Linked DNA regions of Homo sapiens. The protein of the gene in region 2 interacts with the protein of the main gene of each other region in a pairwise test. Each region holds a gene or a part of one and is shown on either strand. Other genes may lie near its edges.

Evidence for each region. The genes of interacting proteins can lie anywhere in the genome.
Region 1: the proteins of FBXL18 (region 2) and RBPMS interact in a two-hybrid assay, tested with the Homo sapiens proteins (2 studies listed by BioGRID).
Region 3: the proteins of FBXL18 (region 2) and WWP2 interact in a two-hybrid assay, tested with the Homo sapiens proteins (3 studies listed by BioGRID and IntAct).

Annotation. Positions count from the first base shown.
Region 1 is NC_000008.11:30,499,241-30,506,602, forward strand, and holds part of RBPMS (RNA-binding protein with multiple splicing), read left to right. Parts: intron 1-1,292; exon of another isoform or gene 1,293-1,470; intron 1,471-2,035; exon of another isoform or gene 2,036-2,278; coding exon of another isoform or gene 2,279-2,338; intron 2,339-4,939; exon of another isoform or gene 4,940-5,045; coding exon 5,046-5,196; intron 5,197-7,362.
Region 2 is NC_000007.14:5,503,590-5,510,951, reverse strand, and holds part of FBXL18 (F-box/LRR-repeat protein 18), read left to right. Parts: intron 1-5,321; coding exon 5,322-5,540; intron 5,541-7,362. UniProt on the Homo sapiens protein: Substrate-recognition component of the SCF (SKP1-CUL1-F-box protein)-type E3 ubiquitin ligase complex.
Region 3 is NC_000016.10:69,926,032-69,933,393, forward strand, and holds part of WWP2 (NEDD4-like E3 ubiquitin-protein ligase WWP2), read left to right. Parts: intron 1-3,416; coding exon 3,417-3,498; intron 3,499-4,098; coding exon 4,099-4,227; intron 4,228-5,120; coding exon 5,121-5,196; intron 5,197-5,477; coding exon 5,478-5,549; intron 5,550-5,770; coding exon 5,771-5,859; intron 5,860-7,049; exon of another isoform or gene 7,050-7,149; intron 7,150-7,362. UniProt on the Homo sapiens protein: E3 ubiquitin-protein ligase which accepts ubiquitin from an E2 ubiquitin-conjugating enzyme in the form of a thioester and then directly transfers the ubiquitin to targeted substrates.

The DNA of each region.
Region 1 (7,362 bases), on a different chromosome or scaffold from region 2:
GCCTGAGTGACAGAGCAAGACTCCGTCTGGTGGCAGCAGGGAGGAGCAATGAGATTACTAAAGCACCATTTGGCAACTACAATAGTAACAGTTGCTTCAGGTAATAATTATTAATAGGTGTTAAAACTAGTAGATTTTTTTGAAAAACAACATATTTATATAGTCTGGAAATATCTGTCTATAAGAAACTACTTAAAAAGGGAAAACAGCATCTTTACAATAGAGAAACTTGGCAAATGATCAAAGCTAATATCACTCGTAATGGGACAAAAGTGACATCATGTGCCTCTTGATATTATGCACTGTGCAGGACATCCATCTCTGATCTTCCTGCCAAAAAATGCGTAACCTGAATCTAAACCAAAAAAAAAAAATTAGATAAACCCAAATCGAGGGCTACTCTACAAAATAAATAGCTTGTAGTTTTCAAAAATATCAAGCTCATGAAAGGTAAGGACTGAAGAACTCTTTCAGGAGACTAAAGTGATGACAACTAAGTGCTGTGTGATTCTGGATTAGATCTTGGATCAGGAAAACAAAGAGATGTCCTTGTTTTTAGGAAATCAAACTGAAGTAAAGGGTAAAAGAATAGCATGCTTGCTACTTACTTTTAATCAGTTCAGGGGAAACTGTGTGTGTGTGTGTGTGTGTGTGTGTGTGTGTGTGTTTGATAAATGTGAAATGCTAACATCTAAGAAATCTGTGCAAAGGGTATATAGGAATTATACTATGTCTGCAATTTTTCTGTAAGTCTGAAATTATTTCAGAATAAAGTTCTTTGTTAAAAGTAACTAGTTTTTAAAAACATAGCTGGTTGAATGCTGTGTCCCAGTAGGAAATCCCTTATTCCACCTCTCTCCTTTTGTTTTTAATTCTGTATTGGATTTTATAAATTATACATAGTTGTAAAAATTTCAAATGATGCAAAATTGTACAAAAGTCTGTGCCCTCTCTCACCCCTACCACTAAGTTGTCTGCTATTATTAACTGGTTGGTTGTCTCATTCTAAACCTTTCTGGACTTACACAGATAGAGAAGTATACATGCAGATGTATATACAGTCTCCTCTACCCCCATACTACCAAACATTGTTGAGTATCTTTTTTTTTTTTTTTTCAGGCTAATCTAGCCATGGACATCTTTCTCAATATGTATATATAGCTCTGCTTTGTTTCTAAGCATTTTTTTTCTAAATGAGTCATTCCATTGTCCCTAAAACTCATTGTCAAGGACTGATGGACTAACTTTAGCGCAGAACCATTTGTAACAACACTGGGAGCCTGAAGCTAACAGAATTGAAGTACTCTGTTTATTGTACCACATAACCAAGACTGTATCAGGTATGAGGGTGCTCTGAAGACCTCAGTGACAGGAATTTGGAGACTTTTTCTCTAGTGAGAGGCTGTTACGGTGACTCAGCTTTGGTCAACACCATTTTCTGTGTCTCTATATAGGCTCAAGGTTGAAATCCTTATAAGAGAAAACAGGTTTTGTCACTTTAGGCTGCAGCTGCCCCTTAAATAGGCAGCTGTGGTCAGAGGAATAAGGGCACAGAACACAGACATTGGCCCCTGAGTACCCTTCCCAAAGAAGAAGGCTTAGAGGGCAGTAGCCATCTCATCCCAGCTTCTCTTCCCAGGGCTGCTCTAATGGTTTCATATCTGATCTGTTCTAGTCCCTTCATTGAGTCTGTCTTCCCTACCACCCCTAGAGTTACCGCCAATCACTGTGATTCTCAAATGTGGTCCCTACACAAACAGCATCAGCATTACCCTGAACTTGTTAAAAATGCAAATTTTCAGATTCCATCTCAGAGCTACTGAACCAGAAACTCTAGCAAATCCTCCAAGTTGATGCTGCTAACATTTGAGGGTCACAGACCTACTACATAAAGCTGATCATATTATCCCCCCCATTTTTAAAACCTAATGGCTTAGCTGAGCACACACTCCAAAGTCCTCAGTCATGGCATAAGAGGTCCTTTGTGATCTCTCCCCAGTCTGCTTGTTCAGCCACCCCACCCCTGACCCCTCCCACCCCAACACCCTTTCTGCATCCTGTTACAGAGAAATTTGCTGAGCCCTTTCCTGAACTGCACCTGGTGAACTTCTACTCTTCATCACTTCCTCTGGTGCCTTCCCTGGCTCCCTGGCATGAAACTGCCCTGGTATACTTTTAAGTATACTGGACGAACAAGAATATGTTGTTTCTCAGCAGTGTCCTTTTAAAGATCTCCCAGAATTTGCCCTGAGTAGGGAATTCAGCCTCTGTAGATTATATGGAACCTGCATTTGTAGAGACTGTTGGCTGTCCAGTAGCCAGTCAGATTGGGGTGCTTGTAAGTAACTGTTTATATTCAAATTAATATACTAATATTCAGAAACTGTCCTTTCTGGTCCATGTAATAAATAGGACACCATTTACATTTGGAAGAGAAAGGTTCTCTGTTCATTGTGAGAAGAACGGTGAATTATGAGCAAGAGAGGAAAAGGTTGCTTTTGAAAGACACAGGTTCACCCTTTCACTTGGCAGTAATCTTATCCTGACAGCATTTAATGTGGAGTAATTGTAGCCAGAGAAGAATCTTAGTAGGCTTTAATTAAAAACACAAGGAATTTTTTTCTCTTGTCTTCTTCCTATCTGCCTCTTTTTCTTTTTTCCCTCTTCGTTTCTGTGTTCTCCCTTTTCCTGCCCCTCTTTTTTCTCCTCTTCATCATCCCTTAACATTTAAAATGTTTTTGGCTTGGCTAATCCCTATGGATGGAAACTTAGCTGCGCAGGATATTGATTACCAAATATGGTATTGCTGCTAAAGATGTTAGAGGAATGTGGCTTGTATTCTAAGCCTCCGGCCTCTGAATAAGCTGCCAAACAAATTAGGTCATTTTAACTTCTGAGCTTTTTTTTTTTTTTTTTAAATAAGGATGCTGGAACTTTGATTTGGAACATGATGTTGATGTTATTTTAGTTCAAATTGGGGGGCGGGTATGAAGAAGGGGGCAGGGAGTAGGGGAGACTTAGTTCAGCATGTTTTAGGACTCAAGCCGCCAGCCCAGGTTGTGTAAGAGGCAAACACATGATGTGGAGCTTCAGTTGATTCTGGAACACCAGTGAAAGAGCTGAGGCATAGAATTCACATGTGCAGCCTCATTTTCTGAGGCTAGATGCTCTAGACCACAACTAGGTCCCAGGATACTCTTCACATCATCCCCAGTGGCCTGGGCCACAGGACTCAGGTTAATGTGAACTCAGGTTTAGGAAAGTTGCTTCTTCACAGGAAGGTTGGTCAAGTTTAGTGCCGGGGAGGACGTCCTGAAGTTGATGGCAAGTTGCTACTATGTGTGTCTGATGGAGTGTGGTGCAAATGAGGAAGTCCTTTTACAGCATACCTGTACGTAACACCCAGGGACTGTGCTTGCCTCCCAGCAGAGACCACAGTTCTTAGGTCCATTCTTGGAAATATTAATTCTGTTGTAATATTAGCTTTGTTAGGGTGGAAGTTGGTCCACCTCAGTGAGGTCCTTTGTGACCTCACCCCAGCCTGCTTCAGAATGCAGCTTTGCTTTTTGTTTTTGTTTTTCCTTATATACTTTTTCTTCAAAATAATACTGAGGTTTCCCAAATTTAAAAAACAAAAATACAACACAATATCAGTTAAAGAAAATGTTCTTATGTTTCACAGAACAGGCACTATCTGTTCGCTTTTTGGTGTTGATTAGGTATGCACAAGGGTATTCTCCACATCCCTTTTGCTACTGCCCTCAGTTGGTTTCTTCTCAGAATGAGTGAGTCATGCTCATGAAGTTCCACCCACTCCAAGACTTCTGGGTCAGGGCTCTGTGGCTTTTGTTAGGCCTCCCTAAGGACCTCTCTTTCCTTCCCCTTCCCCCCTTGTTTCCTGTTAATGCCATTACCATCCAGCCACAGGCTCTTCCTTGTATACTTGAAGCTGAGCCTGTGAAGTTCAGAGTTGTTCATCCTGGTCTCTAGAGTAAGAGAGTCTTGTTTTTGTGGATATTTCTTTTTTTGAGACAGAGTCTAGCTCTGTCACCCAGGCTGGAGTGCAATGGCGCGATCTTGGCTCACTGTACCCTCTGCCTCATGGGCTCAAGCAATTCTGTCTCAGCATTCCAAGTAACTAACTGGGATTACAGGTGCATGCCGCCACGCCCAGCTAATTTTTTTTTTTTTGTATTTTAGTAGAGATGGGGTTTCACCATGTTGCCCAGGCTGGTGTTGAACTCCCGAGCTCAGGCAATCCACTCGCCTCGGCCTCCCAAAGTGCTAGGATGACAGGCATGAGCCACAACGCCCTGCCTGCTCTTATTTTTTTTCAAGCTCATTAGGAAGAATGGTGGCGAGGGGGCGGGGGATGCTTTGGAGCCCTCAGGCCCATGTGTGTACATTCAGAACACTAAATGGCAACTGTGTTCTTAGGAGACTCGTTTTCAGGACTCCAGTCCCTTTCCAGACCACACCATGAAAACATGGGAACTGAGTGGGTCCCATGGGTGCACATTTAAAATACACTCTCTTGGGATATCTTTTTGACACGTAGGGTCCAGAATTCATGGTATTGGATGCTTAATAATGAAGACATTCTTGAATGGTGGAAAGGTTCCAAATAGACTTGTCTTGCGCTAGTGTCTTTCATAGTGTCTGTGATTTGTTTTACTGAATATAATCTATTTTAGGTAAACTGCAGGAATAGGGTCAGAGGTAACTGAAATTACTATATATTAAAGTGTGTAACTGTGCTAGGAATTTGCTGGTTCAAATTTTAAACTGAAAAGTTTTTGTCTAAAAAGAAAAGGAATAGTTGAAAATCTGTGTAACTACATTTTTTAACTAAACTAAATCCCACTGACTTTCGGGACACTTTGTGTTGTCATTTTTCATGTAACCTGTGTAAGTAGTAAGAATGAGAGTGGTTGCTGACCTTTTTTCCTGATAGACCAGGGTTTACTGGTGTGTTTATTTTGTCACCATTCCGGTTTGACTCAAAGGAAATGAAAACATCTTCCATTTGTTCTCTGTTTCCAAAGGGCATCCGCTTCGATCCTGAAATTCCGCAAACACTACGACTAGAGTTTGCTAAGGCAAACACGAAGATGGCCAAGAACAAACTCGTAGGGACTCCAAACCCCAGTACTCCTCTGCCCAACACTGTACCTCAGTTCATTGCCAGAGAGCCATGTAAGTCGATCTACTTTTCATTCAAAAGTAATAATAACTAAGAACTGTTCATGTGCTGCATGTGAGGTTACACCATGGGACATGGAGCTGGCTGAGTCTTATTTTCCATTTCTGTGAAGAGGTTGCCTAGGCGTTCTTGGTGTCAGAATTCCAAATACAGCAATCTTGTTTGTGATTGGCTTCCCAAAAGATGGTTCAGCTTGAATAGAACCATAACTTCAGAATATCATTTGATGTACTACAGATTTCCTTAATGTTATATTGACCATCATGAGTATGCCCCTAGTTGCCTTGGGTATAAACCCTTCATTCCCCCCTGCTCGGACACGAGAGCTGGTTCTCAGCATTTACTTTAATCCATTTGTTGAAGGACATCAGCTCGGTGGCTTTGGAAAAATAGGATATTAAAAGAGAAAGAAGCAGATCTTGGGAATTTGGTTCTATTCAGTTTAGCCATAACTCTAGGGGGAAAAGTAAACACATACAAAGAATGTATATATTGGAACTGTCAGTCTAGCAAACTAATACCAGTAAAACTTTAAGGAAATTTGGGGCTTTCTTTTCCAACTTAATTGGATAAGGACACTGGCTAATTGCTCAAGACGTCTTCTACCCCACATTAATAAGCTTATTTCATTATATGTCCAGACTACCATTTCTGCCTTTCCCTGAATAACTTTAAAAGATTGAATTTGCTTTCTCAAGCTCAGTCAGTGGCAGAAGTGGGGCATGAGACAGGCCTTAACTTCTCCTTTCATTGCAGAGCCATATGTGATTTAATATGGCAGGGCATTCAAGGAAACCCAAGTGACTTGGATTCCAAGTTATTTGGAATATTTCTGTCCTGTTGTTTTTGGTCTGCTTTCTAAACCACACGGTTGTGATCTTCTTCCTTCGATAGTACATTTTAACTCTTCTTATTGAAATTGAAGGACACATGGATTCCTTGCTCCCCCCATGTCATGTGCATGTCAGATTTAATCAGGTTATCTTTGGAAGTCACAGCCATTCTGTAGTTCAGTCACTCTTGGTACTCATCAGTAGAAACTAACAGATAAGTCTCCCTGAATGTTCTAAAATAAATGTTTCTATGAATCCAGAAAGTCATAATAGATTAAAAAAAATTATTTTGTTCTTTCACCTTCTTTGTCCCAGGGAAACTAGAAACCTTTGCTTATTTGGGAAGGAAATCTAAACAAAAGTTACATCTTACAGTGTACTTGTAGTACAGGAGGATATAGGAACATCTTTTACATAATTCTTCATCCTTATAGTATCTAGCTTAATACTTTGTATATTGTATATATTTAATATTTATTATAGTGAGTGGATAAATTGATACTGAAATTGGGCTACTTGTAGAACTGTAGATGCATTTGTATGCCTCTTCTCTCTGAAATTTCTTCTCTCTTGATCAAGGCATCAAAAAAGAGTATTTTTAGGATGCCTGATTTAGTAAAAATAACCTAAAGTAATTCTTTGCCTTTTTAGTGAATTTGCCAGCCTCAGATCTCAGAGTTCTTTGAAAAGATTAATTCAGGCAGGAAATGTAATGCTGGTGATACTTAACTTTACCTTTTCAATTCTTTGCTGAATGCTCTTTTTAACAGGACCACGAAACTTTTTCTGAATTTCCTACAACAGCCCTGTGAAATAGGTAGCCAGGAAGGTTGTAGCCAGATTACGACATGCTATACAAAAGCAACAAATAGGAACAAACTGGACATTCACAAGTCCCTGAAGTTACAGGAGAGCATAGAAACTGAGCTTAGAACTCTTTTCTGGCAAGCTCTGCTCACCTCCCTTCCCAGCATACAGAACAGTGCAAAAATGGCCAGATAGTTTCCATGACAGGGTAAAAACTTGCCCAGCTGTTCACAGCAACACAAATTTGAAGTTTAAAAAAAAAAAAAAAAAAAAAATCCAAGCAGCCAGCAGTGTATTCTTGAGGAAAATAAAAGTCAGCATGATTTATCTTAATATAGCTCATTTTTACGACACAGCATCTTGAGGAGAGCAAGTCCACTATGGCTCAGGTCAACCTTATTATCCATTGCCATTCCCTCTGGGAACTGGGAACTTGACCGTCACATACAACTTGCTTACCTGGAAGCATACGGCAAGACTAAGAACACTGTGTTGGGTCTACACGGACAAACCCACTTG
Region 2 (7,362 bases):
AACCACTTTCAAGTTGTCATTATAGCCGGTGGTTCCTAGTGTGCCTGGTAAGCACATTCCAGGGCCTGCCACTCACACCAGAATTGGAATTTCAGGAGACCCCAGGAATGAGGTGCCTGGTTGGGACCTGTCTGGAAGCCTCAGCTGCCCTTTCCTGGTGGTGGAGGGAAGGGAGGTTCTGGGCTTAGGAGTCCAGGCCCTGTGGGAGGCATTACTTGGCCTTTGACCTCCAGCCAGTTACCTAGATTTTTTTTTTTTTTTTTTTGGAGACAGGATCTCACTCTGTTGCCCAGGCTGGAGTGCAGTGGCGCGATCATGGCTCACTGAAGCCACCACTTCCCGGGTTCAGGTGATCCTCCCACTTCTGCCTCTTGAATAGCTGGGACTGACTATAGGCACGTGCCACCATGCCTGGCTAATTTTTGTATTTTTAGTGGAAACGGGGTTTCACCGTGTTGGTCAGGCTGGTCTCGAACTCCTGACCTCGTGATCTGCCTGCTTTGGCCTCCCAAAGTGCTGGGATTACAGGCGTGAGCCACCGTGCCTGGCTCAACTAATTTTTTAATTTTTTTGTAGAGACGAGGTTTTGCCACATTGCCCAGGCTGCAACTTGGGTTTTTTTTTCTTTTCTTTTTTTTTTTTTTTTTTTGAGACAGAGTCTTACTCTTTCGCCCAGGCTGGAGTGCAGTGGTGCGATCTTGGCTCACTGCAACCTCCACCTCCTCGGTTCAAGCAATTCTCCTTGCCTCAGCCTCCTGAGTAGATGGCATTACAGGCGCCTGCCACCACGCCCAGCTAATTTTTGTATTTTTAGTCGAGATGGGGTTTCACCATGTTGGCCAGGCTAGTCTCGAACTCCTGACGTCAAGTGATCTGCCTGCCTCAGCCTCCCAAAGTGCTGGAATTACACGCATGAGCTACCGCGCCCTTCCTGCACCCTGGTTTTTGTTTCCTCTCCAGAGCTTGCCACCTTTTTTGGTGCAAGGTGCCTTAACTTAACAAAGTTGTCTCCGGAAGCTAAGTTCCAGGGAAATGACTCAACTCGCCCGCCCAGCAGCTGCCTCCTAGGGTCCTCTGGCCGGAGATGGAGAGTGGGGGTGGGGGCCCATTCGAGCTGCTTCCTGGGCCAGTTTCTCGTCTTGTCTGGGCATCACCCCTCAGATACCTGCCCCACCAGGTTGGGTGCTGGCCCCACAATTGCATCAGGGGTCTGGCCTGAGATGAAACTTCTCTTTTTTTTTTTTTTTTTTGAGATGGAATCTCACTCTGTCACCCAGGCTGGAGTGCAGTGGCACAATCTGAGCTCACTGCAAACTCCACCTCCCAGGTTCAAGCGATTCTTCTGCCTCAGCCCCCCGAGTTGCTGGATAGTTGCTGTGGACAGTAGCCCACCACCACGCCTGGCTAATTTTTGTGTTTTTAGTAGACATGGGGTTTCACCATATTGGCCAGGCTGGTCTCGAACTCCTGACCTCGTGATCCACCCGCTTTGGCCTCCCAAAGTGCTGGGGATTACGGGCGTGAGCCACCGCGCCTGTCCAAAATTTCTGTTTTATTTGGAGCACAGCATGTGGAAAAAATGATGTTGTGGAATTTGCTGTGGCTGGATGGAGAGAGCTGGAACTTAATTCCTGGCCTGCTGTCTCTCCCTCTCTTTTTAAAAAAAATTATTGTAATTTCTATGAGGTTTTAAGAAAAATTCAGTGTGGTCGTGTAACTGTGGAATCTATATGATGCTGGATTTTTTTTTTTTTTTTTTGAGACAGAGTCTCACTCTGTCACCCAGGCTGGAGTGCAGTGGTGCGATCTCGGCTCACTGCAACCTTCACCTCCCGGGTTCAAGCGATTCTTCTGCCTCAGCCTCCTGAGTAGCTGGGACTATAGGCGTGTGCCACCACACCCGGCTAAGTTTTGTATTTTTAGTGGAGATGGGGTTTCATCATGTTGCCGAGGCCTGTCTCAAACTCCTGACCTCAGGTGATCCACCCATCTCAGCCTCTGAATGTGCTGGTTTTACAGGCGTGAGCACAGCATTACAGCGTCTGGCCCAGTGCTGGAGTTTTTAATAGTGTTTTGCCCTAAGTTCTCATTCTTACCACGTGAGCTCTGTGATGGCATTCTTTCATAAATCTGCAAACTGGGAATTGGGAGGGGTACAGTTCATTCCTTGATAAGGACTGTCCCTGGTTCTGATAAAGATTGTCTCTGATTCTGATCAAGTTTGTCTCTGGTTCTGATAAAGGTTGTCCCTGATTTGGGAGTCTGTCTTTTGGGATTGGGCCCCACAAGTCTGGGGTGGGTTCCAGGAATCTGATTTTTATTTATTTATCTTTTTTTTTTTTTGAGACAAGGTCTCTCTCTGTCATCCAGGCTGGAGTGCAGTGGCAAGATCCTAGCTCACTGCAGCCTCAACCTCCTGAGCTGAAGCGATCCTCCCACCTCAGCCTCTTGAGTAGCTGGGACAACAGGCACATGCCACTGTGTCCCACTAATTTTTTTTTTTTTTTTTTTAGACAAAGTCTCGCTCTGTTGCCCAGGCTGGATGCAATGGTGCGATCTCGGCTTACCGCAACCTCTGCCTCCTGGGTTCAAGTAATTCTGCTCAGCCTCCTGAGTAGCTGGGATTACAGGTGCCCGCCACCAGGCCCAGATAATTTTTGTATTTTTTTCTTTCTTTTTTTTTTTTTGAGATGGAGTCTTGCTCTGTCACCAGGCTGGAGTGCAGTGGCGCGATCTCAGCTCACTGCAACCTCCACATCCCGGTTTCAAGTGATTCTTCTGCCTTGGCCTCCCGAGTAGCTGGGACTATAGGCATATGCCACCACGCCTGGCTAGTTTTTGTATTTTTAGTAGAGATGGGGTTTCACTATGTTGGCCAGGCTAGTCTCGAGAACTGACTTCGTGATCCGCCTGCCTTGGCCTCCCAAAGTGCTGGGATTACAGGCGTGAGCCACCACGTCTGGCCTAATTTTTGTATTTTTAGTAGAGACAGGGTTTCACCATGTTGGCCAGGCTGGTCTCGAGAACTGACCTCGTGATCTGCCCTCCTCAGCCTCCCAAAATGCTGGGATTACAGGTGTGAGCCACTGTGCCCAGCCTGTCTTGCTAATTTTCTTTTGAGACAGTGTCTTGCTCTGTTGCCCAGGCTGGAGTGCAGTGGTGTGATCTTGGCTCCCTGCAATCTCTGCCTCCGGGGTTCAAGCGATTCTCCTGCCTCAGCCTCCTGAGTAGCTGGGACTACAAGCGCCTGCCACCATGCCCCGGTAATTTTTGTATTTTTAGTAGAGACGGGGTTTCACCATGTTGGCCAGGCTGGTCTCGATCTCTTGACCTTGTGATTTCCCCGCCTCGGCCTCCCAAACTGCTGGGATTACAGGTGTGGGTCACCATGCCCGGCCTTGTTCTGCTAATTATTAAAATATTAGGAGGGAAGGTAGAAGTAAGTGTCTAACCTCTGACCCTCATGAGCCTCATGGGTCCTTACGGGCCATGTCCTTTGGTTTCCGTGTGGCTTTCTCTTTTGGAGGATGGAGGGTACTTCTTTGTTCCCAGGGAAGAAAGGTGGGACACATTCCAGCACACCTGTCTAGGGCCTGGCGAGGGCTTAGCAGGATGGGAATCCTGTCTGGAGAGGGTGAAAGGACTGTCGCAGTCAGAGTTCCCAGGAAACCTCCGATACCCGTGTGGGGTGTGCAGATAGGCTCTTCCTCCATGGCCTTCACGGTTGCCATGGTAGCAGCCTGGCTTTGCAAAACTCAGAGCTTCCATCCAGGCAAATATGTACAGGAAGCAGGAGCAGGCTGGAGCCAGAGGGTCGTGTAGACACAGTCCCCAGAAAGATGATGTAGTGGAGATGATTCCGGGCACTCTCTCCTCGGCGTGGTCTTTACAGAGATCAGCTGCTCTGAGAGGCTCCCCTTGGTAAAGCCTTCTGCCTTCCTTTGTCCCCGATCTGGGGACTTCATGTCTCATTAGGTCCAGCTCTTCTCCCTCTTCATCGTATAAACCAAAAAGGCATCAGGCATTTTGACTCAGGCCCACATTAGGGAAGAACACCTTGTAATTTGCCAGATATGAACTACAGCAATGGAAAAGGAAGTGTGCATGGCCAGGTGCAGGGCTCTTGCCTGAAAGGCTAGCGTTGTGGAGGGCAGATCACTCGAAGCCAGGAGTTCAAGACCAGCCTGACCAACAGGGCAAAACCCCGTCTTTACTAAAAACACAAAAATTAGCTGGGCACGGTGGCACATGCCTTTAATCCCAGGTACTCAGGAGGCTGAGGCACGAAAATCTCCTGAACCTGCGAGGTGGAGGTTGCAGTGAACCAAGATCGCACCATTGCACTCCAGCCTGGGCCACAGAGTGAGACTCTTTCTCCAAAAGAAAAAAAAAAAAAAAGCCGGGCATGGTGGCTCACACCTGCAATCCCAACACTTTGGGAGACTGAGGCGGATGAATCACTTGAGGTCAGGAATTTGCAACCTGATTGGCCAACATGGTGAAACCCCGTCTCTACTAAAAATACAAAAATTAGCCGGGCGTGGGCGTGGTGGCAGTCGCCTGTAATCCCACGTACTTGGGAGGCTGAGCCAGGAGAACTGCTTCAACCCGGGAGGCGGAGGTTGCAGTGAACCGAGATTGCGCCACTGCACTCCACCCTGGGTGACAAAGCAAGACCTTGTCTAAAAAAAAAAAGAAAAAAAAAAGAGGCCGGGCATGGTGGCTCACACCTGCCATCCCAGCCCTTTGGGAGGCTGGAGCCCAGGAGTTCAAGACCAGCCTGGGCAGCATAGCAAGACCCTGTCTCTATTATAACAAAACACCCTTTGGGAGGCCAAGGCAGGAGGATCACTTGCCCAGGAGTTTGAAATCAGCCTGAGCAACATAGGGAAACCCCGTCTCTACAAAAAACCAAAAAAATTAGCTGGACAAAGTGGCATGCGTCTGTAGTCCCAGCTGCTTGGGAGGCTGAGGCAGGAGAATCTCTTGAGCCTGGGAGGCGGAGGTTGCAGTGAGCCGAGATCACGCCATTGACTCCAGCCTGGACAACAATAGTGAAACTTCTGTCTCACAACAAAAGAAATAAACACATGATGATCTTTTTTTGTAATCTTTCATTTTTGAAGGGAGACCCTGGCTTACAGCTCTATAATGGAGTTTTGAAGGATTTCGTGAATTCTTTGTCATTCAGTTGAGAGTTTTAGTAAAAACACCTTCTTTCCCATGGATAAGGGCTTCTCTTTGCTTCTCTGCCTAGCTGCAGGCTAGGCTGACAGCCATCCTTGGGGATCCTGTGGGAATGGTGTCCCCCTTATTTTCAGGACATATCCAATGATGATGATGACATGCACCCTGCAGCAGCCGGGATGGCAGACGGGGTCCACCTCCTAGGGTTCTCTGATGAGATCCTCCTTCACATCCTGAGTCACGTCCCCAGCACAGATCTGATTCTGAACGTCCGGCGTACCTGTCGGAAGCTTGCAGCCCTGTGCCTTGACAAGAGCCTCATCCACACCGTGTTGCTGCAAAAGGACTATCAGGTGAGCAGGCGTGGGGGCAGGAGATGAGAAACAAGCTAGATCTCAGTCTTTGAGGACTGGGCACAGCCCTGCAGTGGAACCCTGTGTGCTGATATAAAGGTGGCAGGAACTCCAAGTCCTGACTGGCGCCGTCTGCAGGATGCATTGAGGGACAGAAGCAAGGGGCAGAAAAGCATGGGTGGTGTGCTGCCTGGGGAGGAGGGTGCAGATGTATGTGGACATGGTTCTGGGAGGGAACCTAGGGCCTTGGGAGTGGGGGAGAGGGGTTGGAGATGTGCTTTCTTGTGGATCGCTAGGAGTGGAATTGCTGGGTCTTGTTTGTTGTAAAGTTAAATATGTGGCTCTCCAGTGGTGCAGTGGGAGGGCACCATTTTGCACCCCCCAGCAGGGTGCAGGAGTTCCAATTGCTCTGCAGCCTTGTCAACACTTGGTACTGTCAGTTTTTTAAGTTTTAGCCATTCTTTTTTTTTTTTTTTTTTTTTTTTTTTTTTTTTTTGAGATGGAGTCTCGTTCTTTTGCCCAGGCTAGAGTGCAGTGGCATGATCTCGGCTCACTGCAAGCTCTGCCTCCCGGGTTCACACCATTCTCCTGCCTCAGCCTCCCGAGTACCTGGGACTACAGGCGCCCGCCACCACGCCGGGCTAATTTTTTTGTATTTTTAGTAGAGACGGGGTTTCACTGTGTTAGCCAGGATGGTCTCGATCTCCTGACCTCGTGATCTGCCCGCCTCGACATCCCAAAGTGCTGGGATTACAGGCGTGAACCACCACACCCGGCCTGGTAATGAATCTTAAAGATAAAAATAAGGCCAGGTGCGGTGGTTCACGCCTGTAATCCCAGCACTTTGGGAGGCTGAGGTGGGTGGATCACCTGAGGTCAGTAGTTCGAGACCAGCCTGGCCAACATGGTGAAACCCTGTCTCTACAAAAAATACAAAAAATTAGCTGGGCATGGTGGTGGGAGCCTGTAATCCCAGCTACTTAGGAGGCTGAGGCACGAGAATCCCCAGGCTGGAGTGCAGTGGCACGATCCCGGCTCACTGCAACTTCTGTCTCCCAGATTTAAATGATTCTCCTGGGTCAGCCTCCTAAGTAGCTGGGATTACAGGTGCCCACCACCATGCCCAGCTAATTTTTGTATTTTTAGCAGAGGCAGGGTTTCATCATGTTGGCCAGGCTGGTCTTGAACTCCTGACCTCAAGTGATCCACCCAACTCGGCCTCACAAAGTGCTGGGATTACAGGTGTGACCCATTGTGCCTGGCAAGCTTTAGCTCTTTCTGCTGGAGGGTCTTCAGTGGATGAGGGAGCTGAGTGTGCTCCCTGCAACGCTGGTATCAGGCCTCCAGGCCTCCTCTCCATGAAGCTTTGTTCTCTGCAGAGGAAGGGCTCGGCGCCTCTAGCCAGTGCCTCTCGGTGTACATCCAGAGCATTTTTTTTTTTTTTTGAAACGAGGTCTCACTCTGTTGCCCAGGCTAGAGTGCAGTGGTACTATCTCAGCTCACTGCAACCTCCACCTCCTGGGTTCAAGCGTTTTTCCTGCCCCAGCCTTCTGAGTAGCTGGGATTACAGGCGCCTGCCACCACATCTGGCTAATTTTTGTATTTCTAGTAGAGACGAGGTTTCACCATGTTGATCAGGCTGGTCTCAAACTCCTGACCTCGTGATCCGCCCATTTCAGCCTCCCAAAGTGCTGGGATTACAGGCATGAGCCACTGTGCCTGGCCTGGAGCATTTTTTTAATTTAATTTTTTGGCCGGGTCTGGTGGCTCATGCCTATAATGCCAGCATTTTGGGAGGCTGAGGCAGGTGGATCACATGAAC
Region 3 (7,362 bases), on a different chromosome or scaffold from region 2:
ACTCTGGAAACGCATCGCTGCTAGTTATTATCGCCGTGTAGATTTCTCCTCGCGCTTGGTAGCCGCCTCTTACCTATCCCAAGTCCTTGATGTGATTTGCTGACAGTGAGTTAAGGGATGGACATCCATGACTTAGGAGAGATGATAGGCTTCATGGCTATTCTAGGAAAGAGTAGCCATGCAAAAAGGGTCATTAGAGATGATGAGACTTAGCGCATTTGATAGAGCTGGGGCAGAGTTTTATTTAATCTTGTGAGAGTCACTGGGAGCAGAAGAAAGCAGTTTTTGCGGGAACCAGCATGTGTTGGGTTTCATTTATTGGTTAGGCCAGCAGAAGACGGTAAACGTTGGTTTGGTGGTGTTGACAGATGGTGTGAAACTGGGAGGGGGTGCGCTCGACAACAAAGATGGAGAGGTGCATCCTGGGAAGTTGGCAGTGATAGGATGGGCATCTGATGCCTGGAAACATGCAGGTTTGGAGCTGGATCTTCTCGATGCAGACACTTCTGCTCTCGGGTAGTTATTTAAGAGGTTGTGTCAACCCTGTTATACCTGCAGGGTACCACTTAGTCAATGAGCACTGCAGTCCAGTGTGCCAGAAGGGCCTTCTGGTCCTTCTGATTGGAGAGATCATTTAGTGAAGCTTCCACACATTTGTTGATGTTCAGCTTGGGGATCCCTTACGCAGATAGCTGCCCCACATGGCTCCCTGGACCAAAGAAAGATCATTAGTATCTCAGAGATTGGCAGCAACTCCAATGCGAGAGAGTAAAACTCTGAAGACCCTGCGTCGTCAGTAGGCAGGGGAAAATGCGTCAGATTAAACAAGAATCTGTACTGCTGTTTAGTAGCCAGTGGCATAGAAGCCGGGGACTTCTAGTGTATTTCAGGCTCTGTAGAGGCAGGTGATGTAGCCCAGTCAAGTGGGTTTTCATGCCAGTTCTGCTGAGTGATGGTCACCAGGTAAGCACAGCTGATGGAGACTTGAAAACAGCTCTCGAATGCTAAGTGTGGAAATATTTGAGATAGAAATGGAGGAGCCGTGGTCAGAGTCGATACTGTTAATGAACGATCAGAAAAAAACCCACAAAACTGTCATAGTCTAGAATTAAGAGGAAGAACATTCTGGCTAAAGGCCAGGGCTCCTTCTGAATCTCAGATCCTTGGGGATCTGTGTTGGCTGCCCCAGGGCTGTGGCTGGGGCCGGCTCCCCAGGGCTCACCGAGAATGAACAGGAAGAACAGCCAGACCAAGTGAGAGTGATCGGCAGCTTGCTAACCCAGCCTGCTGGTGTCCCTCTCTGCTGCCCCAGGAGAGACCCCGCATCTTCCCCACACACTGCTGTGGGACTCAGGACACCTCGGGTTCAGATCCACATCTGCCCTCGGCAGCCCTGACCCTGGGCCTGTGGCTGAATATGTCTGAGTCCCTTTGTCCTAAAATGAGGTCGAGCCAGGTGTTCCTGGGGTCTTTCCCAGCCCCCAACTGAAACTGAATGCCGCGAGGCAGCCAGCCGGCCTTGGGAGGCCTCCACACAGCAGCAGTGCCAGAAATGACGACACAGGCCTCAAGCCCGCTGGACAGATCCCCCTGGCCCTGTGGTTAGCCTTGGCTTTGGCCCTTAACAGGGCAGACGTGGAGGATCTAGTTCAAAGCAGTAGCTTCGGGGCTGGGAGCAGCCCCTCCCCTGGAAACCTCTTGGGAAGCCTTCCTTCTGTGTGTTCTGAGGTGGTGGTAGCTCTGTAACAGCTCTGGGCACCTCCTGTTCTTTCTTTCCTTTGGCTTTCTTTTATTTATTTTTTATTTACAAAATAGAGATGAAGTCTCGCTGTGTTGCCCAGGCTGGTCTCGAACTCCTGGGCTCGAGCGATCCTCCTGCCTCAGCCTCCCAAAGTGCTGGGATTACAGGCGTGATCCACCGTGCCCAGCCTGTCTTTATTTTTATTTTATTTATTTGTTTTTCCAGCTTTACTGAGGTATGATTGACAAATAATGTCTGTTTGTAAAATTTCAGTCGAGTCATAGATACCAGGTAAGGCAGAGAGTGGGAGGGAGACTGAGGCCTTGGTCTGGTGTTGGGAGCACTGCAGCTCGAGTCTTGGAGTCAGGAGGGGGTTGTTGCACTTCCCTGTTCTGCTCCTTTTTCAGCTTTCTGGTTCCCTGTAGCTTCTGGAACTGATTATTTTTGTTTCTTTAATGCTGCCCTGTCTTGTAAAAGGAGAGCCATTAGCATCATTTGTTTTCAGGAGAGAAGCAGATTTGAAGGCTCAGGAACTTCCTGGGAAAGGTGACCTCTTTTGAGCCAAGAGCTTTACCCCCTAGTTTTTTGTTTTTTTTTTCTCCTGTCTACCTGGAGCTGAGAGGTTATCCCTTTCAATCCCTCTCAAGGTCCAGAATCACCAGCTAGGGTTGGGTCTGCCCCTGGAGCACAGACTCCTCCCTTGGGGACCCCAGAGCCCTTATCAGTATATCAGTAAAGGGCAAGAGAACAGAGATTGTTCAGAGCAGAGGAAAAGTGTATTTGTTCCCCAGCCCCACTCCATGAACATTCCCCTGTCTCAAAGCACATACTTAGGCCTAAGAACAGGATAGGCAGGCCAGGCACGGTGGCTTATTGCCTGTAATCCCAGTACTTTGGGAGGCTGAGGCGGGAGGATCACTTGAGGCCAGGAGTTCGAGACCAGCCAGGACAACATAGCGAGACCCTGTCTTTATATAAAAAAGAAAAAAAAGATACAAGTCTAAGAAGAGGCTGGGCAGTGTAAGTGTCCTCAGCCCCAGATATCATTTATTTGCTTATAAGCAAGAAAGAGGCGTGCCAGGGTATGAGAGTTTTAGAACAAGACTTAGCCTGTAAGTGGGAGAAGAGGGAGAACTTGGAGGGTACAGGGGCGCAGGGTGCAGAGCACTGATCAGAGAGGTGCGAGGGAAATGCAGCCACTCCATAAGGACCACGCCCTGTAGGACAGAGGCGCCCAGGTTAGCTGCATGCAGTGCAGAGGGTCCCAGGACCAGGGATCAGCTGTGAGGGACTTGGGTGGGGGGCCTGGCGGGTTAGGGACTGCCCGGCTTCCATGCTGCACACAGCTGGGAGCAATTATGCCTCTGGTTTGAGCTGTGCTGCTCCCTCTGGGTGGCCACACCACCCCCTCCCTCCGACCAATCAACCAAAGAAGTGCTTCATCTCGAGTTGGAAGTATGTCACCCCCGCCCCCCACCACCAACAAGGAAGGACCCTCTTTGTCCCTTTCCCAGTGACAAGTGTGAGTGAGCTTGGCTTTGGCTGGTTCTTCTCTAACAGGCTGACAACAGGGAGATAAACTCAGACCCAGCACCCAGGAGGTGGGAACCTCAGGGAAAGGACACCGGCTCTCCGTGTTTGAATCTGATGTTCTTTCTTTCTTCTCATGTGGCAGAGAAGAGACAGGACAATGGACGGGTGTATTACGTGAACCATAACACTCGCACGACCCAGTGGGAGGATCCCCGGACCCAGGGGTAAGGACTTGGGCTGAGAGGGGGGCCGGGCTGGGCTGGGTCTCTGTGCAGCTCCAGCACTGGGCAGGTGGCTTTGGACTGCATCGTCCCAGAGGGCTGATGTCAGGGACCTTTAGCCACACACAAGTGTCTTGAGACTCTCACCGTACAGATACACTGTTGGCCTGATGAGAGCTTAAAAGGGGTTTCTTAAATAGACCTTCCTGGTGGATGGAGGGCGGCCCGGCTGGCGGGTGTTGCTGGTCTCCATACTGATTGTGCTGGCTGCTGATAATTGGATTGCAAAAAGGTTGAGGGCATCCTGGTCTCCCAACACCCCCAAGTGAAGCTGTGCTGGGGCACAGGGTGCCTCAGGATTGCTGGTGGCTGCTCAGTCCAATGCCATCCATGCAGGGCTGGGTTTTTGGCCATGAGATAATAAGTGACCTCTCCGTGCTGCAGAACTGTTCTCACGACTTGGGTCATGCTTCTTGGGTGCATGTCCTCAAAGTCCCTCATGGGCTCTGCAGAGACAAAGCCACACTTTGAGGACCCAGCCTCCAACCACCAAGGTCCAGAAGGTGGGGCCAGCCCTTCACCCTTTTCTTCCCGTGTTTCCAGGATGATCCAGGAACCAGCTCTGCCCCCAGGATGGGAGATGAAATACACCAGCGAGGGGGTGCGATACTTTGTGGACCACAATACCCGCACCACCACCTTTAAGGATCCTCGCCCGGGGTTTGAGTCGGGGTAAGGACTTTGTGCAGGTAGCAGCAGTGTCAGGAGCCGAGGCCCAGGCTGTCCTTGTTCTGGCTCTGGGAGGCCCACTTTGGGTGGCCCCTGTGGTGCGTTCTACTGCCCTTACTGCCCTCTAGTGGCCAATGTTGATGTCATATTAAAGGGGATGGGAGGATAGCTTGAGCCCAGGAGTTTGAGACCAGCCTGGACAACATAGCGAGACCGTGTCTCCACAACAATAAAAAAGATTAACCAGGCTGAGAAAAATGGCAAGACCCCATCTCTACAAAAAAAAATTAAAAATTAGCTGGATGTGGTGGTGCATGCCTGTAGTCCCAGCTACATAGGAGGCTGAGGTGGGAGGATCCCTTGAGCTCAGGAGTTTGAGGCTGCAGTGAGCTATGATGGCACCACTGCACTCCAGCTCAGGTGACAGAGTGAGTCCCTGTTTCTAAAAAATAATAATACATTTAAAATTAGCTCGGTGTGGTAGCACACTCCTGTAGTCCTAGCTACTTGGAAAGCTAAAGCGGGAGGATCGCTTAAGACCAGGAATTCGAGGCCGCAGTGAGCCATGATCACACCACTGCACTGCAGCCTGGGTGACAGAGCAAGACCCCGTCTCTAGAAAACGAACAAACAAATAAATAAGATGGGATGGGGAGGAAGGGACTATCCTGTTTATTCCGAATGACACTAGAGTTATTTCTCTAAAAGCAAGAAGTCTGGCTTTATTTCTAGATTTTCTTTTTTATTCTTCAAGGATCTTAATGACAGTCACTTCCTCACCTTACATTACTAATCTTTAAATTAACATAGCACCAGCTTTCCTTAGGGCTGACAAAGACAAATTGTTCATTTTCTGAGAAATCGCATGAACCCCTGAACATCTTTGCTCTTCCTAGGACGAAGCAAGGTTCCCCTGGTGCTTATGACCGCAGTTTTCGGTGGAAGTATCACCAGTTCCGTTTCCTCTGCCATGTGAGTTCTGGTACTGGGGCTCCCGTGGCAGTTGGGGTTATTGAGTTATTTCAGTGTGAGTTCCCGGCACAGCAGCAGGTATCGGAATGTTTGTGTCTTAGGCGGGCGCAAGACACTTGTCTAACCCGGAGCTGGCTGTCTCTAGGAAGCTAGTTTTCATTCCTAGGGCACATGCTATTGCCTCCTGGCCCAGCAGGCTGGGGAATGCCTGTTCATACAGACAGGAGAACAGATGACCACTTGAGGCTCGATTTAAAGTTCTTTTCTTTTTTTTTTTTCAGTCAAATGCCCTACCTAGCCACGTGAAGATCAGCGTTTCCAGGCAGACGCTTTTCGAAGATTCCTTCCAACAGGTTAGATCATGGTGCCCGAAACCAGTGGCAGGCCGACGCCCTCCTCCCAGCACCCCATCTCCTATCGCGTGGCCTGTTAAACCCACACTGCAGACTTTCCAGGGCGTGAGTCTTGGTGACTGTGTCTGCTGGATATTGGGCCTTAGAGTCCCCTGTCCCTCCCGCCCCTGCCTGCTGTGGAAGGGAGAGTGGCAGGCTGGCCCGATGCTCTGTCTTCCCAGATCATGAACATGAAACCCTATGACCTGCGCCGCCGGCTCTACATCATCATGCGTGGCGAGGAGGGCCTGGACTATGGGGGCATCGCCAGGTGAGCTTGAGTGCCCCGGAAGGCTGCCCTGTACCCCGCTTCCCCAGGCTACAGCATCAATGGCCAGAAAGCTGCCTGCCCCCTGCTCACATTCCCTCCCAAAGCTCTCATGCATCTTCAGGAATGGGCACAGTGTGGCATTCAAAATACGTGAACCCGCCAGGCGCGGTGGCTCACGCCTATAATCCCAGCACTTTGGGAGGCTGAGGCAGGTGGATCACCTGAGGTCGGGGGTTCGAGACCAGCCTGACCAACATGGAGAAACCCCGTCTCTATTAAAAATACACAATTAGCTGGGCGTGGTGGTGCATGCCTGTAATCCCAGCTCCTGGGGAGGCTGAGGCGGGAGAATCGCTTGAACCTGGGAGGCAGGAGGTTGCAGTGAGCCGAGATCGTGCCATTGCACTCCATCCTGGGCAACAAGAGCGAAACTCCATCTCAAAAACAAAACAAACAAAAAAACAAAATACGTGAATCCATGTGGCCAGTCCATTGGGCCTGGAACAGGGGCCTGGGGTGCCCCACTGGGCTGGACATTAAGCCTTTAGTTACTGGGTCATGAGGCGACGGAGGACTCCTGGGAGGGGCGAGAGCTCAGTACAATGGCTCTGTTATCTACCAATGTGTCATGTTTCTGTACTTTAACAACCAGGCCAGCAGCATCTGGGCAGTTGAATATAGGGGCCATGTGGTCATCCATTAGAGTTGACCCTGGGATCCCCTCCTCTTAAGGCAGCCAGGGCAGGTGAAGTCAGGTGTCCCCGTGTGGATAAGCTGTGTCACGATCCACAGGGCCTTGAGCAGGGCTCAACTGCATGTCACATGCCTGGGGTCAGTAAAACTGTAACGGCTTATGTCACCCTAAAAAGAGTCCAAAGCATTGTCTTGCCTTCACCCTGGTCCACCCATAAAAGTTAACAGGCCCTCTGGGAAATGCTGCCTTGGACAGCAGGGCAGAAGGGCCCCGGCAGAGAGAGAGAGCGCTGTGGCCCGCAGCGACCTCTCCGCTCGAGACCTCTCCCGGTGTGGGCATGTCTTCCCGCTTGGTGTTGGGTTAACTTGCTTCTGGTCCTCTGTTCGGTGGTGGCGTTGCCTTCTGCGCTGGCCCCGTGGATGGATGTTCCTTTTTTCCGTGGTGACCTCCTCTCCAGGCTCTGCTTGGTGGGCTTCTGGTGTGGCCGCGCCCTGTGTGTGTCTCTCTCTGTGTCCTGCCAGTGGTTTTACCCTATGGTAGGTTACGTCATGCTGTTCTACCACAGGGTAGAACCACGGACAGGATACCGGGGCACCCTCTGCGTCGACGGACTCCTCGTCTGCCCAGCCACAAACAGCCCAGCAGCTGGGGACTGGCCCCCTTGGGACATCCCCTTGCTGGTTTAGCTCAAGCCCAAAAGGACTCTGAATTCATGCCTGAGGCTCGCACCCAGGGCACGGGTGTTGGTTCAGATGAATGCGTGGAAGTGTGGGAACGGGGATGGTGTTGGGGTCTGGGGGTGAAGGGAG